Homo sapiens: one gene and its partners. The protein of the gene in region 1 purifies or fractionates together with the protein of each later gene. This does not show direct contact. Each region holds a gene or a part of one and is shown on either strand. Other genes may lie near its edges.

What was found.
Region 2: the proteins of ARHGAP19 (region 1) and CCDC80 purify together in Homo sapiens (co-immunoprecipitation; one large-scale study listed by IntAct). This does not show direct contact.
Region 3: the proteins of ARHGAP19 (region 1) and NSRP1 purify together in Homo sapiens (affinity purification with mass spectrometry, with the first as the bait; one large-scale study listed by BioGRID). This does not show direct contact.
Region 4: the proteins of ARHGAP19 (region 1) and FAXC purify together in Homo sapiens (co-immunoprecipitation; one large-scale study listed by IntAct). This does not show direct contact.
Region 5: the proteins of ARHGAP19 (region 1) and CCDC50 purify together in Homo sapiens (affinity purification with mass spectrometry; one large-scale study listed by BioGRID and IntAct). This does not show direct contact.
Region 6: the proteins of ARHGAP19 (region 1) and HACD3 purify together in Homo sapiens (affinity purification with mass spectrometry; one large-scale study listed by BioGRID and IntAct). This does not show direct contact.
Region 7: the proteins of ARHGAP19 (region 1) and SFXN1 purify together in Homo sapiens (affinity purification with mass spectrometry; one large-scale study listed by BioGRID and IntAct). This does not show direct contact.

The regions. Positions count from the first base shown.
Region 1 is NC_000010.11:97,261,638-97,265,137, reverse strand, and holds part of ARHGAP19 (rho GTPase-activating protein 19), read left to right. Parts: intron 1-231; coding exon 232-312; intron 313-1,508; coding exon 1,509-1,718; intron 1,719-3,500. UniProt on the Homo sapiens protein: GTPase activator for the Rho-type GTPases by converting them to an inactive GDP-bound state.
Region 2 is NC_000003.12:112,606,644-112,610,143, forward strand, and holds part of CCDC80 (coiled-coil domain-containing protein 80 precursor), read right to left. Parts: intron 3,439-3,500; coding exon 3,335-3,438; intron 614-3,334; coding exon 533-613; intron 1-532. UniProt on the Homo sapiens protein: Promotes cell adhesion and matrix assembly.
Region 3 is NC_000017.11:30,119,816-30,123,315, forward strand, and holds part of NSRP1 (nuclear speckle splicing regulatory protein 1), read left to right. Parts: intron 1-3,500. UniProt on the Homo sapiens protein: RNA-binding protein that mediates pre-mRNA alternative splicing regulation.
Region 4 is NC_000006.12:99,270,668-99,273,671, forward strand, and holds the end of FAXC (failed axon connections homolog), read right to left. Parts: 3' UTR 501-3,004; downstream 1-500. UniProt on the Homo sapiens protein: May play a role in axonal development.
Region 5 is NC_000003.12:191,377,894-191,381,393, forward strand, and holds part of CCDC50 (coiled-coil domain-containing protein 50 long isoform), read left to right. Parts: intron 1-1,767; coding exon of another isoform or gene 1,768-1,781; exon of another isoform or gene 1,782-1,817; intron 1,818-2,265; coding exon 2,266-2,381; intron 2,382-2,793; coding exon 2,794-2,838; intron 2,839-2,934; coding exon 2,935-3,039; intron 3,040-3,500.
Region 6 is NC_000015.10:65,571,963-65,575,462, forward strand, and holds part of HACD3 (very-long-chain (3R)-3-hydroxyacyl-CoA dehydratase 3), read left to right. Parts: intron 1-272; coding exon 273-404; intron 405-3,500. UniProt on the Homo sapiens protein: Catalyzes the third of the four reactions of the long-chain fatty acids elongation cycle. This endoplasmic reticulum-bound enzymatic process, allows the addition of two carbons to the chain of long- and very long-chain fatty acids/VLCFAs per cycle.
Region 7 is NC_000005.10:175,485,060-175,488,559, forward strand, and holds part of SFXN1 (sideroflexin-1), read left to right. Parts: intron 1-3,500. UniProt on the Homo sapiens protein: Amino acid transporter importing serine, an essential substrate of the mitochondrial branch of the one-carbon pathway, into mitochondria.

The DNA of each region.
Region 1 (3,500 bases):
GATGGTCTTTCCCTTCAGGGAACCTACAGTCTAATATTGAACTTAGAGAGAGCTGATTGAGAGTTGTCCTGCTCGCGTTTTCTGGTGCACTTCCAGTTCTAAGGTTTTTGTTTACTGACCATGTGAAAATGCTTGCTGAATTGTAAAATAGGATGCTTGAGTGGTTTTAGGTATGATGATTTTGTACTATTTGTGTGAAATATAGCCCTGTCATATCATATGGTTTTTCAGAAAAAGGAGTGATATTTGGGTCCCCACTGACGGAGGAAGGCATTGCCCAGATATACCAACTGATTGAGTATCTACACAAAAGTAAGACTACTTGAAATTTTATCATTCTTTGTTTAATGAAGAATTCTGTTTTCTGTTGAGAGCTAACTGCCTTGAGTTAGTAGGTGCCAATTAACCATCAACAAAGGAACTAACCAGTGTTAATTTTGGGTGGCATGTTTTTAAATATATTTCCTTTTAAACTTCATCTCATATATTCATTTGTTTTATACTCTCAAAGTGTATATAAATTAGACCGTGTCTATGAAGTCACATTTACCTCTTGCCTCAGAGAGACACTTCTGGAAAAATACATTGTCCCTAAAGAATTGTTGCATTTATTTAAGAGAGCATGGTACCTTTTTTCTCCAGAATTCTATGATTAAAACACACTCTTTACTTTTTTTTTTTTTTTGAGACAAGGTCTCGTTCTCTCACCCAGGCTGGGGTGCAGTGGTGTGATCTTGGCTCACTGCAGCCTTGACCTCCCGGGCTCAGGTGATTCTCCCACCTTGGCCTCCCTAGTAACTGGGATCACAAGCTTGCACCACCACACCCGGCTACTTTTTGTAGTTTTTTGTAGAGATGGGATTTTGCCATATTGCCTAGGCTTGTCTTGAACTACTGTGCTCAAGTGATTCATCCGCCTAGGCCTCCCAAAGTGCTGAGATTATAGGCGTGAGCCATTGAGCCTGGCCTAGGGACGAATAGTTTAGTTGGGATGACCCTAAAGCTTCTGGGAATCTCTTAGGAATTTGACACATTAGAGTTCTAATTCCTGGAGCAATGCAGAGACTCTGGATTCATTCTGGGCTGGGAAAACAGTTTACAAGAGCCACAAACATCCACAGATGTATGTAGCCCCTCCAAACGAAGTCTGGGATAAACAAGAAGAGGTCTTTAGGGAGATTTGGCTTTTTTAAAGTTTATTTTTCAAGCTATTCCTGACCATTGATTGGGTTAAATTCAGATTGTCTATCCATACCTCAGGAGGTTGAATGACTCCCAGGAGGACTACCTTTTAGTTTGGAAGATCTCCAAATGCTCAGGGACATTCAGATATGTCTCCTCAGGAGGTCAATAGGTTCTAAACTACCCTGGTGAAAAAAGGCAAAAACTTACTTGAAAGGCTTTGTGAAGGGTCTTTTAAGTGTAAAGTAGTCTTTAGACCATTTATTTTAATAATAATCTTTCTGCTTCCTTTTTGCCTGTCCTCTGCTTTGTTTTATGCTAAACAGACTTGCGAGTAGAGGGTTTGTTTAGAGTACCGGGTAATAGTGTCCGACAGCAGATTTTAAGGGATGCTCTCAATAATGGAACTGACATTGACTTGGAATCAGGGGAATTTCACTCAAATGATGTTGCCACTTTGCTGAAGATGTTTCTAGGAGAGTTGCCGGAGCCTCTGCTGACACATAAACACTTCAATGCACACCTCAAAATCGCTGGTGAGTATAGGAAGTAAGAAGGAGATGTAAATACATTTCTTTCAATTTAGTAAAGTTCCTAGGAAATTTCTGTTGCTTGTGACCCACAGAAATACTTCTATTAATATTGGTTAAGATTTCGTGATGTTGCTGGACTTCTCTGGGTACTCATAGGTATTGGCTAGTTAAGTTTAATTTTAATTGAATGGCTTTCTTGATAAATAAGCTTTGTATTGAGATAAGGAGCTGGTAGTAAGATGTCGTCTGAGTTTTATTTATTTTTGAATCTCTGATAGATCCTCGAGTAGTGTGTAGAACATTTTAGTTGGAGACATGATCTCACTCTGTCACTTAGGCTGGAGTGCAGTGGTGCAACCTTGGCTCACTGCAGCCTTGCTCTCCCGGGCTCAGGTGAGCCTCCCACCTCAGCCTCCCAAGTAGCTGGGACTATAGGTGTGCGGCACCACGCCTGGCAAATTTTTTTGTAATTTTTGTAGACATGGGGTTTCGCCGTGTTGCCCAGACTCAAACTCCTGGGCCAAAGCCATCTGCCCACCTTGGCCTCCTGAAGTGCTGGGATTATAGGCATGAGCCACTGTGCCCAACGTGTTTTAGTTGCTTAATAAATGTATGCTTTTCATTGGATTGATTCATATATTTCAGATGTTTATAGGTTCGGTATTTTTGCCTTGGTTTGGGGTTTTTGCTCAGTATTTCTATGCCTCGGTTGAGGGCATCTCTACTCTTGGAAATTTTATTTGTTTGTTTGTTTGTTTTGAGACTGAGTCTCGCTCTGTCACTAGGCTGGAGCGCAATGGTGCAATCTCGGCTCACTGCAACCTCCGCCTCCCGGGTTCAAGTGATTCTCCTGCCTCAGCCTCCCGAGTAGCTGGGACTACAGGCACGCGCTACCACGCCTAGCTAATTTTTGTATTTTTAGTAGAGACGGGATTTCACCATGTTGGCCAGGCTGGTCTCGAACTTCTGATCTTGTGATCGGCCTACCTTGGCCTCCCAAAGTGCTGGGATTACAGATGTGAGCCACTGTGCCCAGCCAAGGAAATTTATTTTTTTTAAAAATTATTATTTGTTTTCTGAATAGAAACACATAGTTCAAAATTCAGATGATTCAAATAATATACAGTAAAAACCTTCTCTCCTACACTTGTTCCCCAACACCCAGTTCACCCAGTCCCCAACACCAGTAACACTGGTTAGTGTTACTGATTTAAAAAAAAAAAAATTTTTTTTTTTTTTTTTTAAAAGAAAGCCTGTTCCCCAGGCTGGTCTCAAACTCCTGGCTTCAAGTGATCCTCCCTCCTCAGTCTCCCAAAGTGCTAGGATTGCAGGCATGAGCCGCAGCCCCCAGACCAGTGTTACTGATTTCTAAAGTATCCTTCCAGAGATATTTTGTGTACTTCCAAACAAATACATATATTCCTTTTCTCTGATTTTTATGTAATAGGTTACACACATGGTTCTGTGGTTTGCTTTTTTCACTTACTGTATCTTGGAGAGTGTTCCATTTTCAGCTCATAAATAGTTTCTTCATACTGCTTTATACCCATGTGGTAGGGAATTCATTCTTAAATTGCACGTCTGTTATGCTGCTATGGGCTCTAAGTGTTCACAGCATCAATATCCATTACTGCAGTTGCTTAGTTTCCTGCCCCTGAGTATTTTTCCTGTTTCTTCTAATTATATGGAAAAGAAATAGAAGATTTTTTCCTTTTGAATAATTTTTACTACTTAAAGAAACAAGTGTTGAATTTTAAAAATCTAATACGATTAGTTTTTTTTTTT
Region 2 (3,500 bases), on another chromosome or scaffold:
CGAACTCCTGACCTCAAGTGTTCTGCCCACCTCGGCCTCCCAAAGTGCTAGGATTACAGACGTGAGCCACCATGCCCGGCTTCTCTGAGCCTTTTAGTGTATGTGTCTTTCAGCTTCTCTGAGCCTTTTAGTGTATGTCCTTATCTGTTGAAAGGGAATCAATGAGATATGACCTATGTGCCTCACAAAACTATTGTGAGAATTAAATGATATAAAATAGAAGAAAATGCTTTGTAAACCATAAGGACCTATACGGACCCCCAAAAAGCATTATTTTAGTTAAGAAAAATGGATATTTTTACTGTTACTTGGAATGGTTTATATTAGAAATAATATTAGTCCCTGTACTCCACACCCCTTCCCCTACATATCCCGTGCACACACAGGCACACATGCACAAATGCATGAAGTGGGAGGAGGATTCAATGAACTTTGTTCACCTTAGAGATACACCCACTGCTTGCATATAACTTAATGTAATTTAACTGAACTTAACACTAGTTCATACTGTTTCAAGATAACAACACATTACCATTAATTGGGAACAGTTCTAACACTCCCCCAACTTCCTCTCCAACGCCTAAAAGCTTCAGAATGGTTATGTGGCGCAGACCTGAGAGAAAAAAGAAAACCATAGGATTAGAGGAAAGGATTAGAAGTTATCTTTTACTTCAAAGCCCTGATATCTGACAATTAAAAATCTCTTAAATTTAAAAAGAATATAGAGCATAACCCGATTGAGAAGAATAATCCATTTTAAATTTTTACCATAAGGAAGAAAATACTTTCAAAACCTCAAAGAAGATGAACTGTGATTCTCATTCTACTAAATGACAAAAAAGAAAAGAAAAGATGAAGCCATGCTGGGCGCGGCGGCTCATGCCTGTAATCCCAGCACTTTGGGAGGCCGAGGTGGGCAGATCACGAGGTCAGGAGATAGAGACCACCCTGGCTAACATGGTGAAACCCCGTCTCTACTAACAATAAAAAAAATCAGCTGGGTGTGGTGGCACGTGCCTGTAGTCCCAGCTACTCGGGAGGGTGAGACAGGAGAATCACTTGAACCCGGGAGGCGGAGGTTGCAGTGAGCCGAGATCGCGCCACTGCACTCCAGCTTGGGTGACAGAGACTCGGTCTCAAAAAAAAGAAAAGATGAAGCAATTCATTGGAACATTAAAATATCTGAGCTGATCTAAGCTAGTTAGTGTTCTGAATTTATAACAGCTTTTAGGATAACTTAACTTTCAGAGAAAAGACTACAGACTCCATCAATTGTGATGGTTAAAGAAATTGAAATTGTTCTGCTTCCTCACACAAAACTGTAGTGGCTTAAAGGATATGTTTTTATCACTAATTTAGAGGATTAAAAGGGAAGACATTTAAGCAAGCACAGCTTGCCTTCATATCCTCTGCTAAAGTTTCAGGACAGGAGGGAAGGTCATGCCTTGGTAGCTTGTTGGAATTCTTTTGAAGATGAAGTGGATATGAAGAGATTCCAGAGAAAGAAAATAGGAGGACAAAGGGGCTGTCAAGCCATCATATCAAGCTTTCATAGTTTTAAATAAAGTCCCAACCTAGTCAGGATAATAACTTGGAACTAATAATAAGGTTGTTGGTGCTGTTTATTGTCCAGGAGAGAAAAGTGAACACTGCCATGGGAGGGTACTTCTAAGGAGAAGCTAAAATCTAGGCAAAATGCTATTCAAAAAAATTTTTTTTTCACCTTTACTCTTTTCCCAGAGAAGTGAACTATTCTGTTCTACATATTGGTTAGTCATGTTTTCAAAAGGGAAGATCATCAATTTAATTATTCATTAATTAATAAATGTGAACATGACTTGTTCGCATTTTGGGTATAGTACAAAAGAGTTTGCTTTCACAATGTGACATAGGATCTGTGTGCAGAGATTTAAAGATAAAGTACCACCAAATAGCTGCTACAAAAGCATCTTTGGAAAATTTAAAAACTGTGGCTTTATTTATATTTTTCTTGTAAAGGTTCTTAACTGCTGTAAGAATTTCTATCTTAACTGGCCACATTGGTGGCTATAAATAATTTAAAGTGTGCTTAAGAATACTAGCACAATCAAATTTATATGTTAATATAAAGTCTTAAATTATTAACCTTGATAATAGGAGTACAAATAAAAATTTCTGAATTTTCTATTGTTCTTACTATTATGAGTTTGGTTTTGGCCTTCCTTTGAGTTATTTCATATCTTAAAATTAAAATGTACTTATAATTTACACATACTAGGTCATAACAAGGACCTTGGCTCTGTTAATGCTTTACAAAACTTACCCTCCTCCCTTTTAAAAAACAAATCAAGCACAGTTTTGTAACTAGTAGATGATTCTTCCTCCTAATAGAGGCATCAAAATAATGGTGATTCATCTATGTTCTAATGGAGAATTTTTTAATTTGTTGCCCTTAGCTACTTCCCCCTGCCCCTGCCCCTGCCCAGTGAATCTCTCAAAATTCTTCTTCTGCAGAGGTATATCTCATATGAGATTTCACTCATGACTTCTACTTTTGAAATTGTAGTCATCTCCTTGATTTATCATTGAACTTAGTAGTAAGTTCTATATACTATTCATTTTACTGCCTATATATCCATATCCAAAATGACATTAGCTCTCTCAGGACACTAGAATAAAAATGTTTGGTAAATAAAGCATATATTCGTTTTCAAAATTCTGAGCGATTCACTACAAAAAACAGTAAACTATGTTTTTCTTTGGCCTGCTTGTCTTTAAAATAAGGTTTTATTTAAGAGATCTTGCTACTTTCTTAGTGCTCAGTTATAGATAAAAATCCTTTTTTAAAAAAAATTCTTTCACTAAGTCTTCTGAGTTTTGAAGATAAAAATCATTTTTAAGAGAAGGGCAATATAGTCTGCTTCAATTAATATATTATTCCCAGAGCCATTCCTATTTTAAAAAAGACATTTAATCTATGGAGTATCCAGTGATGGTATGTAAGTAGATATTCGAGTATTACCTAAGTGAATGGTAATACCTAAGTGAGACAATTTAAAAAAAAACTGAAGATAAATGATACAGATCATTAAAAGTAAATCAGAAGATATTTTCAAACACATGAATGAAGAAGAACTAGAGAGGAGAGAATATTGAGGGAAAAAAAAATCCACAGTTGACTAAAGCTCCAGTCTAAAAGCAACTTTATACTCAATATAGTAGAGTATGTGTCTGGAAACCTGAACAGTCTGAACTAGGAATCATTTTGAATGATCTAAGGTTCTATGTTCCATTTTAGAATTGACCAGGAGGAGAGTGGTATGGGAAAGCAGTAATGAGGTGGCTTCCCACTCACCAAAATTGCACGCCTGACCACTGAGGGCAGAGAGCTGCTGTGAATAGGCCCAGTCTTCATCGTTAGGAGCAGAGATCACCAGCAACCTCCTCCTCCACCGGAACCTGGAAAAAAAAAGCAGGACACCATTACTGCTTACTGCTTCAAACAATAAAAACCAATGTAG
Region 3 (3,500 bases), on another chromosome or scaffold:
TATTATATAATAGCATGGGTGGATAATTTAACATATTTGATATTTCTTTGCTACTTTTGAAGACATTGGCTCTTTATGGCTCACAGTTTTTAAAAATTGAGGTATAATTTACATATAAAATGCTCAGATTTTAAGTGTACAGCTTGATGATTTTTGACAAATGTATATGCCCCAATCAAGATTTAGAACATTTCCCTCTCTCCCAAAAGGCTTTCCATACCCTCCTGCAGTCAGTCTACCTCCCCACTTGCTACCCCAGACAAATGCTCATATTTCTATCACTAGATTAGTTTTGCCTGTTACAGAATTTCATATAAAAAAAATCATACAGTATGTACTCTTTTATGTCTGACTTACTCCACTCAGTATAATGCCAGATTTATCCATGTAGTTGTAGAATCACATTTTTCTTAAAATGGATTTTTTCCCCCTTAACAGTGACTTAAGTTTTTCTTCCATTTTTCTGTTTTTATTTCTTCATAAAATATTAGAATAATTGACCATAAGAAATGAATCAAGGTTACTAGTTAAATCTCCATTTCTGCGTAGCCAACTAGAATATTTTCAAATGGAATATTGAGGAAGTTACTAATTACAACTTTTGAATTTTTAATTATGTCGTTGCATTAGTAGATATTTAATACCTACAATAGGTTAAGAGTTGATCAGTTTTGCATCTATATAGCCTATATACTTTTTATTATGTGGTACGCTTTAACAGTTTTTTTTGGGACCTTATATAGTGTTGCTTTCAACCAGTGTCTAGTCTAGTGGGGAAGACAGACATGTGAACATGAATATAAAGCAAACTGAAATATGAAAAGGAAACTAATATACTGAGGATTCCTGTGTGCTCATTATACTTTATTTGATCTTCAGGATCACTCTGATGTATTATTATTCCCATTTTACAGGTCAGAAAATTGAAGCTCAGGTTAAGTAATTTGTTCAAGGCCATGTGGCTGATAAATAAGTGTCAAGATTGGGATTTGAACACAGGCCTATCTGACCTTCAAACCTATACTATTCTTCTGTCTTGCCTTGTTTTAACAGTAGCGTTACAGAATGTGAATGAAATGTAGAGAATGAAATGATTCACTTTGTTGCAGGAAAATCAAGGCAGGAATAAGCATTTAAATAACATTCAAGGCTGGTTTAGATTTAAATAGGCAAAAATAGAGGTGAAATAATTTCATTTGGGAGAGAACAGCAAGAAATACAGAATGGCATACAAGTACAAGGCATTTTTGTGGAATAATGTGGCTGGAGAAGAGGGTATATAGGAAAAAATGTTGCAGATACGGTTGTAACAGGATTGGGCCAGATTGTGGAGTACCTTAAATTTTTCGTATAAAATTTCAACTTTATATTTTCAAGTAGTTTTTGAGTAATTCGGTGATATCATCACACTTTTGGGAAGATAACTCTTGAATTGTAAAACAAAGAAAGGGAGAAATGAGAGATGAGTTTAAAAATGCTTGTTAGAAGGCTTTTTTAGTAGTTCAGGTGAGAGATCTCAACCTAGGTTGAGGTCATTGGGAATTAATGGGGAAAAATGTGAGCGATACCACAGAAATAAGTAGGACCTGGCAGCCACATTGAATATATGGGAAAGAGATGGAGTCCTGATGCAAGATCTTTTTTTTTTTTTTTTGGTCATCATTTTCCCTCATTAAAAAAATATATAATTCACACACTGTATACTTTACCCTTTTAAAGTGTACAATTCACTGTGTGTGTGCGTGTGTGTGTGTGTTTTTTTTTTTTTTTGAGACGGAGTCTCTGTCACTCAGGCTGGAGTGCGGTGGCGTGATCTCGGCTCACTGCAACTGCAACCTCCACCTCCCGGGTTCAAGCAATTCTCCTGCCTCAGCCTCCTGAGTAGCTGGGATTACAGGCACCTGCCACCATACCCAGCTAATTTTTGTATTTTTAGTAGAGACGGAGTTTCACCATGTTGATCAGGCTGGTCTCGAACCCCTGACCTTGTGATCCACCTCGCCCGGCCTCCCAAAGTGCTGGGATTACAGGCGTGAGCCGCCGCGCCCGGCCAATTCACTGGTTTTTAAGAGTTGTGCCGGCATCACCACTGTTTAGAACATTTTCCTCACCCAGAAAGAAACTGTGTACCCATTACCATCACTCCCCATTCTCCCCACCCCTAAACCCTGGCAACCACTAATTTACTTTCTGTTTCTATGGGTTTCCCTATTCTGCACATTTCATATAAATAGAATCATGCAATAGGCTTTCTTTTGTGTCTGACTTCTTTCACTTAGCATGATGTTCTCAAGATTGTAACGTGTCAGTACTCTTTATTTCTTTTTTTATTACTGAATAATATTCCATTGTATGAATGTACCATATTTTATCTATCAGTGGTAGGCATTTGGGTTTTTCCCAATTTCTGGCAATAATGCTGCTATAAATACTTGTGTATAGGTTTTTTGTGTGGATATGTTTTCATTTCCATTGGATATTCTATTGGATATGTACCTAGGATGGAAATTTCTGGTTCATATGATAACTCTGGTTTCATATATATATATATATATATATATATATATATATTTTTTTTTTTTTTTTTTTTTTTTTTTTTTTTTTTTTTGAGACGGAGTTTTACTCTTCACCCAGGCTGGAGTGCAGTGGCGTGATCTCGGCTTATTGCAATCTCTGCCTCCCTGTTTCAAGCAATTCTCCCGCCTCAGCCTCCTGAGTAGCTGGGATTACAGGCGTGTGCCACCATGCCTGGCTAATTTTGTACTTTTAGTAGAGACAGGTTTTCACCATGGTGGCCAGCCTGTTCTTGAACTCCTGACCTCAGGTGATCTGCCTGCCTCGGCCTCCCAAAGTGCTGGGATTACAGGTGTGAGCCACCACACCTGGCCTGGTTTTATTTTTTGAGGAACTGCCAGACTTTTTCAAAATGGCTGCACCATTTTGCATTCCTGTCAGCAGTGTATGAGGGTTTTGACACTTCCACATCCTGTCTAACATTTCTTTTTTATTGTAGCCATATAGAAGGTGTACAGTGGTATCTCATTGTGGCTTTGATTTGCACTTCCCTGGTGGCCAATAATGTTGGACACTTTTTTGTTTTTGGAGAAATGTATATTCATGTCATTTACCTTTTTTTAAAAAAAATTTAAAATTGAGATGGGGTCTCACTATATTGGCCAGGTTGGTCTTGAACACCTGGCCTCAAGCAATCCTCCTGCCTCAGCTTCCCAAAGTGCTGGGACTACAGGTGCAAGCCACTGTTCCCAGCCACATTTATCTCTTTTTATTTTATTTTATTTTTTGAGACAGAGTCTCGCTCTGTAGCCCAGGCTGGAGTGCAGTGGCACGAACTTGGCTCACTACAACCTCCACCTCCTGGGTTCAACCAGTTTCCCTGCTTCAGCCTCCCGAGTAGCTAGGACTACAGGTGCAGCTGGGATTACAGGCATGTGCCACTACGCCCAGCTAATTTTTGTATTTTTAGTAGAGACGGGGTTTCA
Region 4 (3,004 bases), on another chromosome or scaffold:
GCCTTTCATGTTTGTTTTCATCCAGATTTACCTGTATATAATGTTGAGCACAGGTTACCCAGTGTGTTTGCCCAGGCCCAACATACCCTGCGGTAGGTGAACGTAACCCTCCAATCCGAACAGTCCCTCCACTGGAGACGACCCCCTAAGTCTTCATAACAAGAACGCTGGCACTAAAATAGACCTCTTAGGCATACGGGGCAGCAACACGCTAATTCCGTAAGGAAGGAAGCTGGTTCTTTTTCCTCTTTTTTTTTTCCTCCAAAATCCACTTTTATCCAAAGGATAAGCTGCTCTGACCTTGACAGTTTTTAAAAGAAAAGTCTGTTGCTAATGGGAACCAGCCCAGCTGTGAAAGATCTAATGAGTGCCTGCCAGTGGCGTCATCTAGAAACAAATCAAGCAGCTTCTGAGAGAGCAGGGAGACCAGCTGTTCCGCCTCTCCTCTAAAAGGAAAGAAGAACAGAAATATGAAACATTGAGTCAAGAAACAGTACAAATGGCAGCAAAACATGTATTTTAACGACTCTGAGATCACAGCACATTGGAAAGGTAAATGACCCTCTTCCCTCTGATGAGTCCTGAAAGCTAGGACAGCAAAGCTTCCCTAACAGGACAGACGGGAAGTCCAGGACCCCACACAAGTTCTAGAAGGGTGTGGAACCAACTGACGTTGAAGTAGATGTAGATCTATTTCAAAGTATTTCTGACTAGGGTCTATGTTAATAAACAGGGCTGATAGGATTTATAGGTCAAGAGAAATGGAGTCTAAAAAGATGAAAACCAAACTACAGGTCGAGCATCCCAAATCCAAAAATCCAAAATCTGAAACGCTCCAAAATCCAAAACTTTTTGAGCACTAACATGACACTCAAAGGAAACGGACATTGGATCATTTCAGATTTCCAGTTTTGATTTTGGGATACTCAACTGGTATAATGCAAATATTTCAAAATCTGAGAAAAACCCAGATCCAAAACACTTCTGGTCCCAAGCACTTCAGATAAGAGATACTCAATCAGTATTATCACTGAAATGGGAAATTAGGGGGTTCTCTCATTTCCTACTTAATAGATATTCCCATGTTGGGAAGGGAGGGTTAGAATTTTGAATGTTACCTGATTGTAATTTGCTCTAAATGGTAAAAAGCTAATATTTGAGTAACAGTATTATTATTTGACCAAAGATTTGGTCAAATTTTAAGATAGAATTTGAAACATCCTGCATGTCTCTATAGATCTTGACATGCCTATAGGCCCAGCTATCCTTTAAGGTTCATTACCATACACATGTGTGAATCACTTCATAGTAAGATTTGAATTTCCAAAATCTTGCTGTGAATCTCTGACCCTAAAGACTTGAGCATATCATGGCCATATTACCATATGCCAGTTTATCATCCCAAACGTCTTTCTTCATCTGTAATTTGGGAACAATAATTACTTTATTGAAGAGGTATGAAAACTAATTGAGACTATATGTGTGTGTGTGTGTGTGTGTGTGTGTGTGTGTGTGTGTGTGTGTTTGAGATGGAGTTTTGCTCTTGTTGCCCAGGCTGGAGTCAATGGCACAAAGTCAGCTCACTGCAGCCTCCACCTCCTGGGTTCAAGCGATTCTCCTGCCTCAGCCTCCCAAGTAGCTGGGATTACAGGCATGCACCACCATGCCCGGCTAATTTTGTATTTTTAGTAGAGACAGGGTTTCTCCATGTTGGTCAGGCTGGTCTCAAACTCCCAACCTCAGGTGATCTGCCCACCTTGGCCTCCCAAAGTCCTGGGATTACAGGCATGAGCCACTGCACCCTGCCTAATTGAGACAATATTTATACAAGGGGAAATTGGTCTATTATAAGGCCTAGCCATAGTAAAGGTCTCAACATGTGCTCCCAGCTCTCCCTCTCCTCCTTGTCTTCTCTCTACCAGTGGTTCTCACACTTCGTAACACTCTGAGGCACACTGGGCATGAAATAAAAGCAGGAGAGGATGGGACAGCATATTCCAGAGATCTGTTTTTCTTCTTAAAAGCCACTCACTTGAAATTCTATCAAAGTTATATGCCTAAAAAATTCATTACCTCTGTTTTAATTATACAAGAGCCTTACAACTAAAATACTCTCCCAGTCATCTAAGAGACCACCACTTAACAGTATATTAGATGCAAACATTTCAGATTTTCCCCATGAGCCTGAAGTTTAAACATTCAAATTTGCAAAAGAGAAGTAAATTGGAAGAAAGACATTCACAGAAAACTATTTCATATCCATTAGTTATCATTTACACATCAAATACATATAGCATTAAGACCAAATATACAGAATTTCCACATTTATATACAGTAGTCAACATAGTGCACAATTCAAATCTATCTTACAATCAAGTGTACAAGTTTAAATATGGCTTTATAAACTACTAATAACTCTGCTAAAGTAACTCATAGATCCAGAAATAAACACTGAAATGCCATCTTCACATTGGGGTCATCATTCAGCAAGATGCTAATCATTGTGATTGCAAAACAGAGGGTGCAGGTAAGTGTTTCCAGGTGGTGTCCGCCCATTAGCCCCGAAATGTGGGTTCAAATTATGCCAACATTGGCCCTTCCTATCTCAGATACCTAAAAATAAGTCTGCACATCTTCCACACATTTGAAGACACAAGATTATAAACAAATAGAAAAAAAGACATGTAATCAGTGAGATGATGAATTATCAGGCATTATCAAAACATGTTTTTCAGATTGATGCTGAAATTCACAGACAATACATCCTGCATTTGCATTATCTGGGTATCACCTCACCCCTACTTTCTTTTCTTGTTTTGCTTACCTCAGTGTGTTGTTAAATCTTTCTGGAATTTTCAAGGCATTCTAGATCAAGTGGTCCCAAAAGCAGAATTAAAAACATCAGTCTTAAAGGTGACATCAAATTGTTCATCCTTCTCTTTCCCAACCAAAAATGCCTATTTTAAGTAAAAATAATTAAATACCTTGACCTAAAATCATGCGT
Region 5 (3,500 bases), on another chromosome or scaffold:
AGTTTCTAGAGTCTGTTTAGGATACTGAGATGAGGGAAGCTAGTCTGTTAATTTCCTTCAGTTAATTACATTTAAAAAATTTTTGGACATCTTTGTTTAATGACGGCCTTACACTGCACTGTGAGTTCTTTTTCTATATCCTTACAAAAATTTTTGTCACCTTGGGTCCAGAGGACACTGCAGAGAATGGGCATCCTGACAGTGCAGAAATTTAGTATTCCAGGCTGTGGAGATTTTCTACTTAATGAGATTTACAGATTCCAGTGATACATCAAGGGTTTAAATAAACCATTTCCCCTCTAAATATTTGGAACTGAGAGATATTACCTCAGATTCTGACTCTTACTAAGTCATCATTCTCTTTTTAACTGCCAGAGGTTACAGTCTTATCACCCTGTCAAAACAATTAGACTATTCAATGGAATATTGTCTTTGGTAGAATTTAAAACAATGTGTCTTTAATAAAACTGAAAGTGAAAAATCTTCTTGGCTAATTCTGTGGTGTACTTTAGGAGGCATAATAGTGGAGAAAATTTGGTCTCTTGAAATTTGAGCACATCCCACTGTATTATTTCACTGTATGGCAAAAGTGAAGGAGGTAGGCATGTTCTGTCATCCTTAATTAAGCTTTGGGCTGCTTATTGAAGTATCATTTTTTCTATAGATTGGAACATGGTTTATATAGCAGACTATCTTGTCCACTGACATTGCCCAGTACTGAGTTCCTTATCTAATTTCATTTTCTCTGAAATCTGCCTTCCTAGTTCTGACTAAGCTAAATAACTCAGGGAGATTTATATTCTATTTCAGATGGTCCACTCTTGGGACTATGCCACTGTTTTTTTGTTTGTTTGTTTGTTTGTTTTTGCTGTCCCAAACCACTTAGAAATCTAGATTAAGCCCAGCCCAGCATAAGACTCCGTGGCTCTAGAGTTGATTTGAAGTGATCTGTGCAATCAGGTTCTATTAGGTCTGAAGCTAAGAAAGCCATGTTTACTAGTCTGTCTTTGTAGGAAATACAGATGTGTATGAGTCTGTGGCTTCTGAAGCCGCAGAAGCCAGGTTGAAAGTTGTACAAAGGTGGGCTTCACAAAATACTTACATTCTCATCATTTGCCCAGTGTTTACTTGTATTTTATTTTTTTAAAGATTAACAGCAAGTGAGTCAAGTGTGGTGAGGGATTTTGACAAAAATCATTTTAATTTACAGTAATTTTAATGGACATAATACACTAAACAGGTGATGCCAATATTAATTGCAAGTAAGAATGAACTGGGGAGATTTAAAACAAACTTACTCAAGGACAGGGCACACCCAGGCTACTTAATTTAGAATCTGTGGGGGTTGGGGCAAATATTTTTATACGTGTTCAAAGCACCCTCATGTGATTCGAATATATAGCCCTGATTGACAACCCCTGGCATAAAGAGACAATCAGGAGTACATTTTCTTTCTCCTCTGAATAGTTAATTTACTGAAATGAACTATTTCAGATAAGTAATCTTGTTCACTGTATTCAAAATTTTTATTAATTCTGAATATAATACACTCACACTGTCAAGTAAAAGTTTAAAGCCAGAATTGCTTTATAGGAATAAATTGGAATAGAACTCTGGTCATTGTGCTCTCAATATAGCTCTGATTATATTTTCCCTAAGATGTCACAGTGCTATCAGTCTGATCAAAGCTGTGGGGAAGTTCTAAAGCGAGTGGGTTTATTTACTCTCAGAGGAAAAGCCATGGCAGGACCACTGCTTGTCTCACAGGTATTATCACATGACTGCCAGGTGCTGCTGTTCCTGCTCCCTCGGAAGTAGTAAGTATGCAGGCTGAGATAAATAGAAAGAAGCCTCTACTCTCCTCCAGCCTTGACAGCTTAGCCTCTTTTAAACTCTGACTCTGTAATTTGCTTTTCTTTAAATTATTTTTGTTTTCAATGACTTTTTTTTCACTTTGTATTTTTCCAGGGCCTCACTTGCAACTTCTTACATAAATTTCTGCTGTTGCAGAAACTATGTGAGAGGGGACTTTTTACCAGGCAGGCTTGCTTAGATATCTTTGTTTAAATGTATGCATTATCTACATTGCCACTTCCATTCCTAGGGCAAAAATATTTTTAATGCACCCCACACTGTATTCTGGAGTAGAGGTAGTATTGTCATTGTTAGCTACTAAAGAAAAATCTCCTTTATCTTAAATTTCTTAACTTTTCAGAAAACATCCTCGGTTGTTTTATTACATTGAGTTTTTTTTTTTTTTTAAAGGAATGAAGCCAAGAGTGATGAAAGAAGCTGTATCTACTCCATCACGAATGGCCCACAGGGATCAGGAATGGTATGATGCTGAAATTGCCAGAAAACTGCAAGAAGAAGAACTTTTGGTGAGCAAATTTTAAGGCAAAAGTTTAGATATATTGATGGGTATTTTTTTTGTGAATCTAGTCCATCTTGAAATTATATTAATAGTCCTCTATCAATTGAGAAACCTTTTTTTATGAGTGGAAAAATCATGACAATAGGAATAGAGTATCCACTTTTGCTTAGTGAGTAAGCATTAGCAGCAAAGTCCATAACTCCATTTCTCCATCTCCATGATTGTTCTCCATAACCCTGCTGTAGGATTTGATAAAAAGAGCTCCTGCTCTGGCTGGTGAAAGCATACCAACTGATTATCAACCTCAGGAACATGAGTCACAATTATTTTCAAAAACCAGCTTATTTTGTACAAGATACTGAAAATGCACAACATAGATTCCAATTAAATTCTTTGTTTTTGTATTTTCGATATCATAGGCTACCCAGGTGGACATGAGAGCCGCTCAAGTAGCTCAAGATGAAGTAAGTTAATGAGTTTAGCTGATATTCTTTGGAAATATCCTAGTATATTTCTATCTGCACCTCTGCAGTTAATGATATTGACTGTATTTTGTTTAGGAAATCGCTCGACTTCTAATGGCTGAAGAAAAGAAAGCTTACAAAAAAGCCAAGGAGCGGGAGAAATCATCTTTGGACAAAAGAAAGCAAGACCCCGAGTGGAAGGTAGAGTGTGTTTTGTTTGTTTTCTAATTAGAAATAAAATTAGAAATGAAAAGGGGACTCTGCTTTTGAGTTAAGCTCTGCAAATATATTTAGGATATATGAATATATAAATTATCTGTATTGCATATGTGAATCTGATCTGTGAAGATTCCATCACCATGAAAAATCACTGAATTTTGGAACATATGTAAAAAGTTACTGCTAAGATTGAAAACTCATTCTGTTCCCTTTAAGACGGAGTGAAATGCAAGTGCTTCTGGTCATGAACAGTCTTAGTTTTCATATACAGTACTTTGATTATAGAAGAATATAGCATTTTCACATGCTTTCATATTTTCCACAATGAACTTCTCTTCCCGTCTCTACTTTCTTTGTGCTTACATTATCTTTCATCTCTATCATGTATCCGTTTCTCTTTCCTTTGATGTAACATGGTTTGTGGCAGACTGAAAGATACATAC
Region 6 (3,500 bases), on another chromosome or scaffold:
TAAGTCAGCTAGGGATTTTCCTCTCCATTTTATAGAATAGAAGAAGCCCACTACCATGACTTCCTCATCTGTCTCTCTGTTGACAGGTTGGAGGCTGATCTCTTAGAAAAGTAGGGGAAAAAAAGGAGAGGCATGAGCTTTCTGTACAAAGGGAGGAGAAAGCCTTTCCAGCACACCCAGAACTGAAACTTTAGAGTACTAGGACTGGAAGTTCCTGTCATTAAATGTGACTGTTTCATTTGCTTCTAACAAGTTCTTGTTTCTGTTTTCAGCTGTCTCAGTGATTCAGTCCATTCCAATATTCAATGAGACCGGACGATTCAGTTTCACATTGCCATATCCAGTGAAAATCAAAGTTAGATTTTCCTTTTTTCTTCAGATTTATCTTATAATGATATTTTTAGGTAAGTATTGATTCTTTAATACAGACTTTTTCTTGTCACTTCTTAGACAGTAGAATTAAATCATTCAGAAATGTAAAAGTCCATATGAGAATTCTTTTGGGACAGAATTAGAGAATGATTACTTTGCAAAAACAGACCCACTAGGGGAATATGCTATGGTAAGGAAATATTTCTTTTCTAAATCTCCAGCAGTTAAATTATGTTCTTTAAGTGCTCTTGGTGATTGGGAATATACCATAAGATATTTCTTGTTTAAAACAATGTAAGGGGACAGGCATGGTGGCTCACGCTTGTAATCCCAGCACTTTGGGAGGCTGAGGTGGGCACATCACAAGGTCAGGAGTTCGAGACCAGCCTGATCAACGTGGTGAAACCCTGTCTCTACTAAAAATACAAAAATTAGTTGGGTGTGGTGGCGGGTGCCTGTAATCTCAGCTACTCAGGAGGCTGAGGCAGGAGAATCGCTTGAACCCGGGAGGCAGAGGTTGCAGTGACCTGAGATTGCAGCATTGCACTCCACCCTGGGCGACAGAGCGGGACTTTGTCTCAAAAAAAAAAAAAAAATAAATAAATAAATAAAAATTAAAAAAAAAAAAGTAAGGAGCCTTTTAAAATAGACTAAGAAGCTCCCACTTTTACTAATTTCAGTAGCATATTCCTCATCCAGAGTTTATAGAGGTGATAAGACAACCAGCAGCAAGGAAGGAAGAAGGGAATAAAGGCCTCTGAGCAGCCAAGGGTTGTCATAAAGCCTTCCACCTCACAATAGGAAAGTCCCCTGCTCCTCATGGAAAACCTGCTGACCTATTAATTTATATAAAATCATAAATTCCTGCCTTTATAAACTAACAGAAGGGAAAAAGAAAGAAACCTAAATTATTACAAATATGACAAATTTAAAAGGCTTCCTAACTATAAGGATTTTTTTTTGTTGTTGTTGTTGTTAAATTCTTATTAGAGGCCAGGTATGGTGGTTCATGCCTGTAATCCCAGCACTTTGGGAGGCTGAGGTGGGTAGATCACTTGAGGACAGAAGTTTGAGACCAACCTGGCCAACATGGCAAAACCCTGTCTCTACTAAAAGTACAAAAATTGGCTGGGCTTGGTGGCGCATGCCTGTAATTCCAGCTACTTGGGAGGCTGAGGCAGGAGAATCGCTTGAACCCAGGAGGCAGAGGTTACAATGAACCGAGATTGTGCCACTGCACTCCAGCCTGTGTGACAGAGCAAGACTCTGTCTCAAAAAAAAAAAAAATTTATTAGTAATCAGTATTTGGTAATTTCTAAATGCAACTATACATGATTCTACCCATATTATCTATACTATACTCTATACATAGATGTGAAAATACATACATTCTTATGTGTAGGTTAAATACAATTTGAGAAAAATAATTTTTTCCTTTTAAGAGCAAACTAATACGTATCGATTTTAGTATGACAACTAAGAACATAAAAACAGAATGAAAGGAATTTTGTCATTAAATATATTTGAGAGGAGAAAACACTGATTATCATACATAGAACTTTACATGTTTAAGGATAAGACAAGCTCCTAACTATAAGGACTCTTTAAAGTTCTGATACATTTTAGTGGTAATTTATATATTTCTCCTTGCTTTATTTCACAAAAGACTTAAGGTGGCCCTAAATAAATATAACTGTCCAGTCTCCTAGCCACAGAAGGATGCAACAATAGTATATTAGTTCTCTATTGCTGTGTAACAAATGACCCCCAAAACTTAGCAGCTGAAAACAATAAATAGTTATTATCTCACATAGTTCCTGAAGGTCAGGAAGCAGCCTGGCTGGGTGGTACTGGCTCAGGGTCTCATGAGGTTTCAGTTAGGCTGTCAGCTGGGGCTGCAGTTTCTGTAGACTTGACTGGGGCTGGAGGATCTGCTCCAAGCTCACTCTTGTGGCTGTTGACAGGAAGCTTCAGTTTCTTGCCATAGCCCGTCTCCATATGGCTACTCATGGCATGGCTTCCCCCAAAGCAATTGGTTAGAGAGAGAGAGCCCGAAGCCACAGTGCCTAATCTCAGAAGTGACAAATCATCACACAGACCAACCCAGTATAACATGGGAGGGGACTACACAAAGGTATGAAATAACAGGAGATAGAGGTTGTTGGGATCATTGTCACGGCTTGCTACCCCAGACAGTGAGAGGAAGACCACGCAAGGTAAGCCCAGGAAGCCAGAAAGCCCAGTGGTCTTGGTCATTTAGTGTTGCGGGAGGAGAGACTTATACCATAGTATTAGGAGCCCCTTAGTGTGCCAGTGCCTGGCAGATGTACAGTTAAATAGTATACATTGTAGGCCCACGTCATTTGCAAAAGGTTAAAATTTCTTTCTTTTTTTCTGTTTCAGCAAAGGGTATAATCCATTTCAGAAATATTGCCAACCAAAAATATTAAAATGTTTTGCCCTTGAAGAGAGGAACCCTCAGTTCAGAAAATGTACTAATTAAAGACAGCTTTTTACCTTTATTACTGTATAAATTCAGTATAACTAGGCCCCATGAAATGGGCATAAGATAAAGAGGAATAAATATTGGAAAGACATTTAAAATATTTTAGTGAACAGGGTAGAGGGGTAGAAATATTTTAAAGTGCATTGACTTAGTATCTTTTTTTGTGTTGTTTATATTGTACACTCTAATTTGCAAGATTTTATGTTCATATCTACTTTGCTTATAGTGAATATGTAGTTGCTCTTTTCTTATTCTTTAGAATGAAATAAATCCTAATTTCACATTTATAATTTTGAAGCAGTGTAAACAGCCAGTTAACATTTGTATATAGGTCAAAGGACTTTTTAGTTTTTTTTTTTTTTTTTGAGACAGAGTCTTGCTCTGTCACCCAGGCTGGAGTGCAGTGGCACGATCTTGGCTCACTGCAACCTCCACCTCCTGGGTTGAAGCAATTCTCTTGCCTCAGCCTCCGGAGTAGCTGGGATTACAGGCACCTGCCACCATGCCTGGCTGATTTTTGTATTTTCAGTAGAGATGGGGCGTCACAATGTTGGCCAGGCTGGTCTCAAACTCCTGACCTCAGGTGATCCACCCATCTTGGCCTCCCGAAGTGCTGAGATTA
Region 7 (3,500 bases), on another chromosome or scaffold:
ATTTGAGATCAGCTGTTTTTGTGAGAATGCTAATGTGGCATTCCTGATTAGTCTGTATGTTTGTTTGTTTGATTTTTAATTCTGGGTGCAGAGGAACACAGATTATCAAATCCAGTTGGTATTTCTTATGCCACTATAGTACAACTTGAAATCCCTTTTAAGTAGAGGAAACAGTGTTGTATTCATTTCCTATTGCTGTTATAACAAATTACTACATATTTGAGTAGCTTAAAGCAACACAGATATATTATCTTAGAGTTCTGGAGGTCAGAAGTCTAGAACAAGTGGGCCTTCCTTCTGGAGGCTCTAGGGCAGAGCCCCTTTCCCTGCCCTTTCCAGCTGCTAGGGGCTGCAGCTCACAGCCCAGCATCACTCCAACCTCTGCTTGTTCCCACATCTGTTTCTCTGGCTCTGCCTCTTCTGCCTCCTTCCATCTCTTATAGGGAGCCTTGTGATGACATTGGGCCAACCAAATATTCCAGGATCATGCCTGCATCTCTCAAGATCCTTAACTTAATCATATCAGCAAAGTCCCTGCACCATGTGAGGTAACATATTCACAGTAGTAGGTGCTCAATAAATAGATACTAAAGATAGCAGCATTTTTTATTAGACCTTCTCACAGCTTCTGGGGATTAGAATGAGACATCTTTGGCAGCCATTGTTCTCCCCATCATGGGTAACATGCAGTGGGCGCTTCCAGTGCCAGGATTTCGGTGGGTTTAACTGGAGTGTGCAGATAAGTAGTTGGCGTCAAGAACTCCTGCTGCTTCCCTTGCTGGAAAGATGGGGTGGCTTTGAATGACATCCCAGAATCTGATTCTTCCGTCTGCGGAATGTGCATAGGATGTCTGAATCACACTATTGTCGTGAGAAATGAGGTAGAATATTCTCTGATGTGGCAAGCTTAGGCCAGCATCTAGCCCAATTCCTTGTATATAATGGAAATTCTTAAGATGTTAGGGTTCCCCTCTCCCTCTCTCTCCTTTTTCCTCGCCTACAAAGGAAGACATCTTTTGTGAGGCCTCCACAGCATTCTTGATCACTTGTACTTAGAGTAACCTTAAGGTTATTGTAGTATAGAACTTCATAGTGTAAAGGTCAAGTTTTTATTTAAAGGAAAAAAGTGGGGGGGCCTCCAAGATATCATTTCTCTGCAGACATTAATTGGTGTCATACTTCAAGAAAAATGGCTAGAAAAGAGTGGTGAGTGGAAAGCTGGCCAGTGCCCTGGAGGCTGCTCCTGCTTTGAGTTCTCCCGGACTTGTTTCTGCTGCCAGCATCTGCCATGCAACCTGGGCAAGTTATTTCCCCTCTGGACCTCAGCTTCCGCATAATAAGCGCATTGGATAAATCATTTTTCAGACTATCCAGTTCTTATACATGATAATACTTATATTTTATAGAGTAACCATATTTTTGGCTGGGTGCAGGGAATCACACCTGTAATCCCAGCATTTTGGAGGCCAGGGTGGGCAGATCACTTGAGCCCGGGAGTTCGAGACCAGCCTGGGCAATAGAGTGAAACCCTGTCTCTACAACCAGTACAAAAATTTAAAAAAACAGAAACTAGCTGGACATGGTGGCAGACGCCTGTAGTCCTAGCTGCTCGGGAGGCTGAGGTGGGAGGATCACCTGAGCCCAGGACGTCAAGGCTGCAGTGAGCTATGATTGCACCACTGCACTCCAGCCTGGGTGACAGAGTGAGACCCTGTCTCAAAATAAATAAATAAATAATAAAGTAACCAATTCTAAAATGAGACCGTGATGGCGGCAGCTTGCCCTAAAGGTTGCCTTATATTTAACAAATTAGGGATAGTTTGTTATTAGGAACTAGAATTCTATAAAAGCTACATATTAATTTTTGTTTTCATTATTTATGTTAAGCATGAAGGAAAAATAGTGATAGTGAGAATTATAGTTAAAAGGGAAGAGAGATTCCTTGGTATTCAATTTTCTGAGAAAAACCCATATCAGATCTTCACCGGGGAACATCACAGATCACCTAGGCCCGAGGGCAGGCACAGGAGGGTAAAGAAGGGTGCAGGGAAGGAAATGGCTCACGGCCTCATGTACAGCCACAGCCTGGTGTCCGTCCAGCATGAAGTCCACACCCAGAGCCATGCTGAATCCCACGCCCAGCCTTATGCTGGACCTCCTGGATCAGAACCTCTAGAAGGAGGATAGTATTTGTCTTTATAAGAAGCTCTCCAGGTGATTTTGATGTGTTCCATTGGTGCAGAACCATCAGTCTGCACTAGCAGCTTTGCAGGAATAAACGGTTTCCCAAGGAGGGGAGGTTTAACGTGTTGTTCCTCTTGCTACCACCATCATTGCTGTTAAATCCACCTCCTCCCGCTTCACTATCCAGAAATGGAAGTGACCGGCTACCAAGGTGTCTTCCTTTTGGCCAGTCGGGCTACCAATAGATTTACCTCTCATCTTTCAGGATGCCACTCTCTCCTGGTTTTGCACCCACCAGTCACTCCCCAGCCCACTTTGCTGTGCCTTCAGTCCTTTCTGACCTCTTCACACCACAGTCCTTGGATCTCTTTATTTACCTTCACTTCCCTGGTGATCTCATCACATCGCATGACTTTAAATATAATCTCTGTCTGACAACTCCCACGGATAATCTCCAGATTACACTTCTCCCCTGAACTTAGACCTACTTACTCTGCTGCCCGCTGGACATCTCCACTTGCTGCCTCCTGGGTGCCTCACGCTTACTCCGTGCAAATCTGAGCTTCCTGTCTTCTCCCTCGGCCCTCTCCACCTCCAGTTTTTCCAACTAAATACCTCAGGAACCATGCTTTTTCTTTCTCTCACATCCCACATCTAAGATGTCAAGAAATCCTGCTGGCACCATTGAAGAAATACCCAGAATTCCAGTACCTCTTGCCACCTGCGCTGCCCCCCAGCTCTGTCTGGATCTCTGCAGTAACCTTGTCACTGTTCCTCCTGTGTCCGCTCTTATCTCCCCACTGTCTGTTCTCCACACAGCAGCCAGAGAGATCCTTTTAAATTGTGCGTCCGTTCATTTCGGTCCTCTCATCAGAACCTTCCAGTGACTCCCATTTGTTGCAGAGTGAAATGCAAAGGCCTTACAGTGGCTCCATAACCCACATCATCTGACTCCAACCTGAGCCATTACATCTCTTACCTCCTCATCTCCCATCTCCCACTTCCTCACTCCGCCCCAGCTCATGCCTTCTTGCTATTCTTTGAAGACACCAGATGCATTTCTTTTTTTTTTTTTTGAGACGGAGTTTCGCTCTTGTTGCCCAGGCTGGAGTGCAATGGCACGATCTCGGCTCACCGCCATCTCCGCCTCCCAGGTTCAAGCCACTCTCCTGCCTCAGCCTCCCGAGTAGCTGGGATTACATGCATGCACCACCACGCCTGACTAATTTTGTATTTTTAGTAGAGACAGGGTTTCTCCATGTTGAGGCTGGTCTCGAACTCCTGACCTCAGGTGATCCGCCCGCCTCGGCCTTCCA